Homo sapiens: one gene and its partner. The protein of the gene in region 1 interacts with the protein of each later gene in a pairwise test. Each region holds a gene or a part of one and is shown on either strand. Other genes may lie near its edges. The genes, in order: RAPGEF1 and SLC20A1.

The links.
Region 2: the proteins of RAPGEF1 (region 1) and SLC20A1 interact in a two-hybrid assay, tested with the Homo sapiens proteins (one large-scale study listed by BioGRID and IntAct).

What each region holds. Positions count from the first base shown.
Region 1 is NC_000009.12:131,733,408-131,737,223, reverse strand, and holds part of RAPGEF1 (rap guanine nucleotide exchange factor 1), read left to right. Parts: intron 1-3,816. UniProt on the Homo sapiens protein: Guanine nucleotide-releasing protein that binds to SH3 domain of CRK and GRB2/ASH. Transduces signals from CRK to activate RAS. Involved in cell branching and adhesion mediated by BCAR1-CRK-RAPGEF1 signaling and activation of RAP1.
Region 2 is NC_000002.12:112,652,363-112,656,178, forward strand, and holds part of SLC20A1 (sodium-dependent phosphate transporter 1), read left to right. Parts: intron 1-339; coding exon 340-436; intron 437-3,816. UniProt on the Homo sapiens protein: Sodium-phosphate symporter which preferentially transports the monovalent form of phosphate with a stoichiometry of two sodium ions per phosphate ion. May play a role in extracellular matrix and cartilage calcification as well as in vascular calcification.

The DNA of each region.
Region 1 (3,816 bases):
GCAGAAAAAGTAAGAGTTCTGAGATTGGCAAGACCAGGGTCAGGACCTCGCCTGCAGATTGGGGATTGCAGATGTGGAGCTGGCTGGAAGTCCAGCCTCCTTGCAGAAGGTCTTTTGCTGCAGTTCATAGGAATCATAGTGAAAGATTACAACTGCCAAGGAAGACTGGGGCGCGCCTGGAGTGAGGATGACCTTTCCTGGTGGTCTCTGCTGGCTATTCTCAGTGAACTTCCCTTTGCATTTAGACGACATTTTGTTAGATTTCTGTTGGAGTTTTTTTAATGGACTTCCCACTATTCAGTCTCCAGAGGAGTATTTGATTCAGAGGAGAGGCCCTTAGGTGAAGTGGTGGCAGAGCCTGACACCAGGCAAACAATTGTTGTGATTGGAGTTTTGCTGTTTTGTTATCTCAAAGCAACAGAAACGTTGCTTAAATATGTTCATAATCTCCTCTCCCTGAAAGTAGAAGAACCAGCGTTTTTAGTTCTCAGTGCTTAAGGCATCCAGGGTTTTTTGGGTAAACAGGAAACCCCTTCACATCCCGCATAGTGTGCAGCTCTGGCCTGTTCCTCATCCCGCCCCCTTGCATTGCCTGATACCTCCTTGGTGTGCAGGACTCTCCTTAACCCCTGGGGGAGATCTTTTGAGTCATTGCTGTTCTTTGGGACATTTTCTTTCTCATGCAGCAGTGCCTGGCTGGGGCAGGGCCTTGAGGGGTTCATCCATACCTATGTATATCCTCAGAGAATACACAAGGTCATAGGCCTCACATTTGGGGGTCCCAAGTGCCATGGGGAATCAAGACAGTCTGGGCCAGAGGGTGGCACAGGGACAACTTGCTGGGCTGGTGGGGGCCTGTCAAGTGAGGCCTGGTGGAGAAAGGTTGAATTTGGAGGGCCAGGAACAAGCTGGGATGCAGGGGAGGCTTTCTAAACTCTACAGTGCTTCTAGAGATGACGAGGAGGTAGGGAGTAGAAGAGAGCTGGACAGATTAGGGAGCTCCCAGGGTGAGCTTGTGGGCAGGCCTGCAGAGGAGAAGAGGCTCTTCCCTAGGAGCTCAGAGGGATTTGTTCTGGAAGACTGATGGGAGATGTATGCAGCTGTTTAGAGGCTGCTTTGGAGAACAAATGAACATGGTTCTGGTTGTGCAAGCAGTTACTGTGGTTCTTTTTGCTCATATATCTTCCAATAAAGACATTGAGCGAGGAGAGTTGATACCGTCATGTTTTTGGAGCTTAAGCACAGACTGGCAGCTGCGGGCTGGATTCAGTCCACAGATATGTTGGGTTGGATCCGCACGTGTTCTTGAGGAAAAAAACAAAAGAATTGATGGTCAATATTGAAAAATCAGGAAGTCACTCAAAAATCTCAAAAGCCTGGTTCCTGATTTCCTTGAAAAATGAGAATCTCTGGTAACTCTGAGCGCTTGTTCCTGCCTACAAGGCAGCTATGGGCAGGAGTCAGGTGGCGGACACTCCCACAGAGCCCCTCACCACTCCCACAGCCAGCCACACCTCCGACGGCCCACTTGGACTTTTGACATTTGCGTTTGCATCCCCTCCTCGGAGAAATGATTCATGTTTGTTTGTTTTTGTCTGGACTTTGAAACCTTTGCCCCATCCCTTCATTGACTCATTACTCCATCCCTCATTCATCAGGGATTGAGCACCGGCTCCATCAGGCTCCGTACAAGGCTCTGGGGACTCAGTGGTGAACTCAGCAGATGTCGTGCTGCCTGCCCTGAATACAGGCATCCTCTGTGTGTCACAGGGTGAGCAGGAAGGTGGCAAGAGATCAGACTTGCAGTGGGGAGGGATGGTCAGGAAACTCCTGTGCTCCTGTGACAAAATGGGACTTAAGGTGAGAGGCGGAGGATGGGTCCACTTAGCTGGGCACAGGCAGTGGGGTAGGGGACCAGTCTCCTGGGGTGGGAGCAGACCAAGGCCTCCTCAGCTGAAGGGAAGAAGGTCCTTGGACTGCATGTGTCAGTTTCAGTCACTCATTCCTTTCTTCCCTCCTTCAGTGGCTTCACTCATCGCCTGCCTCACGGAGCAACCTCCTGAGGGCCTGGAGTTGTTCTTGTTCTTGGGACACAGCAAAGATCCCGGCCTCCTGGGCCATACCTTCTAACTGGGCTGGCCATAAGTTAAGCAGTTTTGTATGTATGTTTTTAAAGTCCCTTTCCTTCCTCTCTGTGCTCCCAGCGAACCACAGGCTGGCTGGGAGTTTCATCATTTACCAGACCCTCCTGCCAGCGCTGTAGCTCCTGTCACCTTGGAGCAGTTCACTGGGCCTGCTAAAGTGGCCACAGGCTTGCCCAGCACGCTGCCTGAAGATGGAATAAATAGGTGTCTCACGCTCAGTGTGCTACGGTTTCAAATGTGTGAAGATGCTTTTATTGTAAATCGAAAAGAAATTTATAATGACTGCATTTCATGGTCACATTTTTGTCATGATATATTTTCTCAGAACAGATACTAAGAGTACAGGCCCTATGATGTAGGGCTACTCATTTTTGTGGCCTGAGAAAGAGGTCCTCTTAGATTGGCAGTCATTGTATTTCGATCAATTTTAAACTCGTCAAATTTGTACTTCCTTTTTCCTCCATAGTTAGGAATTTTTGTCGTCAAAGTATACTCAGTCAAGCAATGAGACATTTTGATGGCACCTGCTCTGCCTCCTTTCACTCACCCGTTTTAACACTTACTGAGTGCCTCCTTGTTGGCAAACACCAAGTGATGCCTCGTGGCAGGGAGCCAGCAGGAACCTGTCCCTGGAGGCCACAGTCCAGGGGTAGAATCAGAACGATCTTGAACATCTCTGCAATTTCCTGTGGTTTTCAGAATGCATTTATAGACTACCTCATTTCATTTCATCCTCACAACAGCCCAGGGGGTGAGGGCAGGGCGGAGTATCCCTCTTTTGCCCCTCAGGGCAGCTAAGGCCCAGGGAAATTTGGTTGTTTGCCCAAGGTCATGCCCTGGAGAAGTGGAATGGGGAACCGGCCCCCTTTCTTGCCTTTATAGAGCACTGGTTAGAGCCTCCCTGGTTGCTGGGGACACAGCTTTCCATCTTAATTCTTCAGGCTTCTCAATCTCTTTTCTGATCTTTGAAAAAAAAGATCTACCAATGAAATTAAGGGAGGCTCACTACAGTCTTTAGACTGCGTCTGATACTCGTAATACTAGTCACATTAACAGTGCTGTAGAGAGATAAGAAATAGCACTAATGCCAGCTAAGTGTGTTTTTAGAAAAATCAACCACAGCAACCCCAAATGTTTCCTGGTCTCCAGAGCAGCTGTTGGCAGAGGCGGTTTGAATGGGATTCCTTGTAGCCAAGAGACCTTATAGGAGGTCTGTAGAGATGAGTCATGTGTGAGCTTGCAGAAAAATGTCTCCCAAAGTAGCCCGGATTGGAGATTGCCTTGAGTGCCAGGCTGGGTCTTACCTCAGGCCAGCTGAGCGTGTTCCCCATGGCCAGGATAAGATCACGCTCTGGAAAGAGGAGAGGCCTGACAACCCACCGCCTGCCCCACCCCGCGGCCGCCTCGCCGCCGGGACAGGTGTTCCTCTGACTCGTCACCCGTCTTGCCCCAAAGGCTGTTTTATGAGTAAATAAATAAAACCCACCGTTTGTGAATTATTAAGGGATCTGTCATCCAGCAGGCCAGTCATCTTAGTTTCTGGTCATCTGTTTGAGAACATCTTAGTTGTGTCCTTGGGTGATTCTTACCCTTTCCTGGGGCTTATTTTCCCCATCAGTGCCAGGAAGGAGTGGGACTCAAAAGGAGCGCTCCTCTGTTTGTGTTTTTAAGC
Region 2 (3,816 bases), on another chromosome or scaffold:
GAGTATAGCCTATCCTCAGGTGTGTGCTGAAGTTTATATTAGGGCTTTTGGGTACCTTAGAATGTGGGTATTGCAATCTTTATTCAGGATGTTATCAGTCACTGGTACAGTTAGTCTTGTTATTAAAAGAAAAAAGAAAAAAAAACAGGTAGAAGTTGGAATTAGCCTTCGTAGGAAGAATTCCAGATGCAAATGCAGGAAAAACTCTGTTGTCCTTGGAAACTACTCTGGAGAGAGTTATTGGCACTATAATTCCCAAACCTACCCTGTTAAAAGATTCTGTGGAAATGGGTTAACCTTTATACCTTTTAAGATATTGATCTTAATGATGTTTTACAGGCAGATCCAGTTCCTAATGGTTTGCGAGCTTTGCCAGTTTTCTATGCCTGCACAGTTGGAATAAACCTCTTTTCCATCATGTATACTGGAGCACCGTGTAAGTACCTATCAAAATATTTAAATGTGAATTTAAAGTTGTTTACAAAACTTGCATTAAATGCCCAATTTACCCCTTTTTGCTTTACAGGGCTGAAATCTCCTAGAAGGTGGCTGGCCTGCGCCCATTTCAGAAGGCTGCAGGCTAGTGTACGCTGAGTTAACCTAGATAGTTTTTCAACCAAAGAGACCTGCTCAGATTCTAAATCACTACAGACCTTTCCTCTTTAGTCTTCACAGGATCCACTGATAATATGATCATCTCCTTCCCTTTCTCCTGTCTATGCTAAAAATGCTGGAATTAATACTGACCTCAACTACTGAAGTCATTAGTTATATCTGATCTTCAGTAATCAGTCATTTAGGACTGGTTTGCTGGATATTCTCATTTTTCTCTCCCAAATGGAGATACTATTGTTTCTAAGTACTAAACTTCCATGAATCTGCTTGAATGAGAAGAGTTGGGATGTTTACCACCTGCTCTAAGTGCACTTGGAAGAAGAAATTCATGCAGCTAAGAGGAAAAATAATTTGTGAGAATATAAAGGTTGAAATGTTGATGACTTTCATGTTTGGGACTAAGGCAAGGCATGGATTAAATTATGGCGCTACAAGTTTAATTTAGCAACAACAAAAGATTGGTAACTTGTAACTGGCAGGACAGTACAGTTTTGGTATCTAGACTCATTTGGCCTGATGGTCTGTGACTACATAGGCAGTGACTTTTATTCTTTATACTGTGACCCACTGGATGAAATACAGGACACACATGTATGTATGTAGAGAGAAAGATAACTGGAATAGTGTCATGAAGCCACTTAATGCTTACTATGTGCTATGCACCCATATTTTCAAATTCTCTCTTTTTTTTTTTCTTAACATTTGTTGTGGCCCACTGAAATGATTTCAGTTTTGAGTAATGGGTTGTGACTTGCTCTTAAACCTCACTGAAGTAGTAAGTTGCTGACCCAAAGTAGAGTTAGCTAAATATTTTTATTATTTATTTATTTTTTTGAGACAGTTTTGCTCTTGTTGCCCAGGCTGGAGTGCAATGGCATGATCTTGGCTCACCACAACCTCTACCTCCCGGGTTCAAGCAATTCTCCTGCTTCAGCCTCCCAAGTAACTGGGATTACAGGCGTGCACCACCAAGCCCGGCTGATTTTGTATTTTTAGTAGAGACGGGGTTTCTCCATGTTGGTCAGGCTGGTCTCCAACTCCTGACCTCAGGTGGTCCGCCTGCCTCAGCCTCCCAAAGTGCTGGGATTACAGACATGATCACCGCACCTCGCCAATATTTTAATTTTTTACCTTATTTTAGATTGAGGGATTATATGTGTATTTTGTTAGATGGAGCTAAGTATTTTTAATCTTGCTAATTAATTCTTGGAATAATCAGGAACGAAACAGACAACTTTAAGAAAATATTGTTCTTACTTAGACTATACTGAACTGCTATGTGCCGGTGAAGAGAAGTTTGTATGCCAGATTTCCATTGTAAACAGTTCTTTGTGATAAACTAAAAAGTCTCCCATGATGCTCTTAACACTCATTCTTTATGTGGTAGAAGCAAAGCTCAGAGATGAGTGAAATTAGAATCATTTTAAAAACAGAAACTTAGATATTTTCGTTGTGTCCTTTATGGATCATTTGTAAGAAAAACCAGTCTCTTTCCTTTTTGACTTGGAATGTAGACCAACTTAAATTGTGATAGACAGTAATTTCATGTATATTTTAGTTTGTGTGACCACATGATCAAAATTGAAAGCAGAATTTAAAATGAAAAGATACATAGTCACCATAGAATTGTAGTTTGGGGCCGGGCGCGGTGGCTCATGCTTGTAATCCCAGCACTTTGGGAGGCCGAGGTGGGTGGATCATGAGGTCAGGAGTTCAAGACCAGCCTGGCCAAGTTGGTGAAACCTCATCTCTACTAAAAACTAGAAAAACTAACCAGGTGCAGTGGCAGGCGCCTGTAATCCCAGCTACTTCGGAGGCTGAGGCAGGAGAATCACTTGAGCCTGGTAGGCGGAGGTTGCAGTGAGCCAAGATCGTGCCACTGTACTCCAGCCTGGGCGACAGAGTGCGATGCTGTCTCAAAAAAAAAAAAAAAAAGTTCAAAAACAAAAAAAGTTTTAGTTTTGAAGGGACCTCAATTTGTTTCTAATTTTTTTTTTTTTTTTTTTTTTGAGACAGAGTCTCGCCCTGTCACTCAGGTTGGAGTGCAGTGGTGCGAACTTGGGTGACTGCAACCACTACCTCCCGGGTTTGAGCGATTCTCCTGCTTCAGCCTCCCGAGTAGCTGGGATTACACATGTGCATCACCACGCCCAGCTAATTTTTGTATTTTTAGTAGATACGTGGTTTCACCGTGTTGGTCAGTCTGGTCTTGAACTCCCAACCTCAGGTGATCCACGGACCTCAGCCTCCCAAAGTGCTGGGATTACAGGCGTGAGCTGCCGCGTCTGGCCTTGTGTCTGATTTTTAAAGATTAATCATTTTGGGGTATGATAGAATTTCCAGTTTATAAGTACAAACAGTCCCTGACTTCATGGTTCAACCTTCAGTTATTTGACTTTTTGATGGGTTTATAGGTACATAACCTCATTGTAAGTTGAGGAGCATCTGTGATTTCGTACATAACAAGCAAAATAAAGCAAAACAAGCAGAAGTAACTAAGCTATTCCTAGATATCAACTACAGATCATTATAATATCTTTTATGGGTTTTTTTTTTTTTTTTTTACCTTTTTTGTTTTTCAGGGATGGGGTCTTGCTGTGTTGCCCAGGCTGGCCTTGTATTCCTGGGCTCAGGGTGTTCTCACACTTCAGTCTCCTGAGTAGCTAGAGATCATTATAACATCTGTTAGATTTAAATAGGATTGTATAGTGCTTTACTTCTTTTCGTTTGTTTTTGTGACGGAGTTTCGCTCTTGTCACCCAGGCTGGCTGGAGTGCAGTGGCACGATCTTGGCTCACTGCAACCTCGACCTCCTGGGTTCAAGTGATTCTCCTGCCTCAGCCTCCCAAGTAGCTGGGATTATAGAAGCCCACCACCACATCCAGCTGATTTTTTTAATTTTCAGTGGAGACGGGGTTTCACCATGTTGGCCAGGCTGGTCTTGAACTCGTGACCTCAGGTGCTCCACCTGTCTCAGCCTCCCAAAGTGCTGGGATTACAGGTGTGAGCCACTGTGCCTGGCCAGTGCTTTACTTCTGTCTTTAGTACAGGCTAATGGTTTGGAGCCTACTGGCGTGCATATGACAGTCAGATAATGACTAATATTACTCATTCTTAAACCATGTGAACAGTGTTGCTAGGCAAGTCTTTTTTTAAGGTAAGACTTGTAAGTGAAATTACCACTAAACTTTGTGTGTGAGA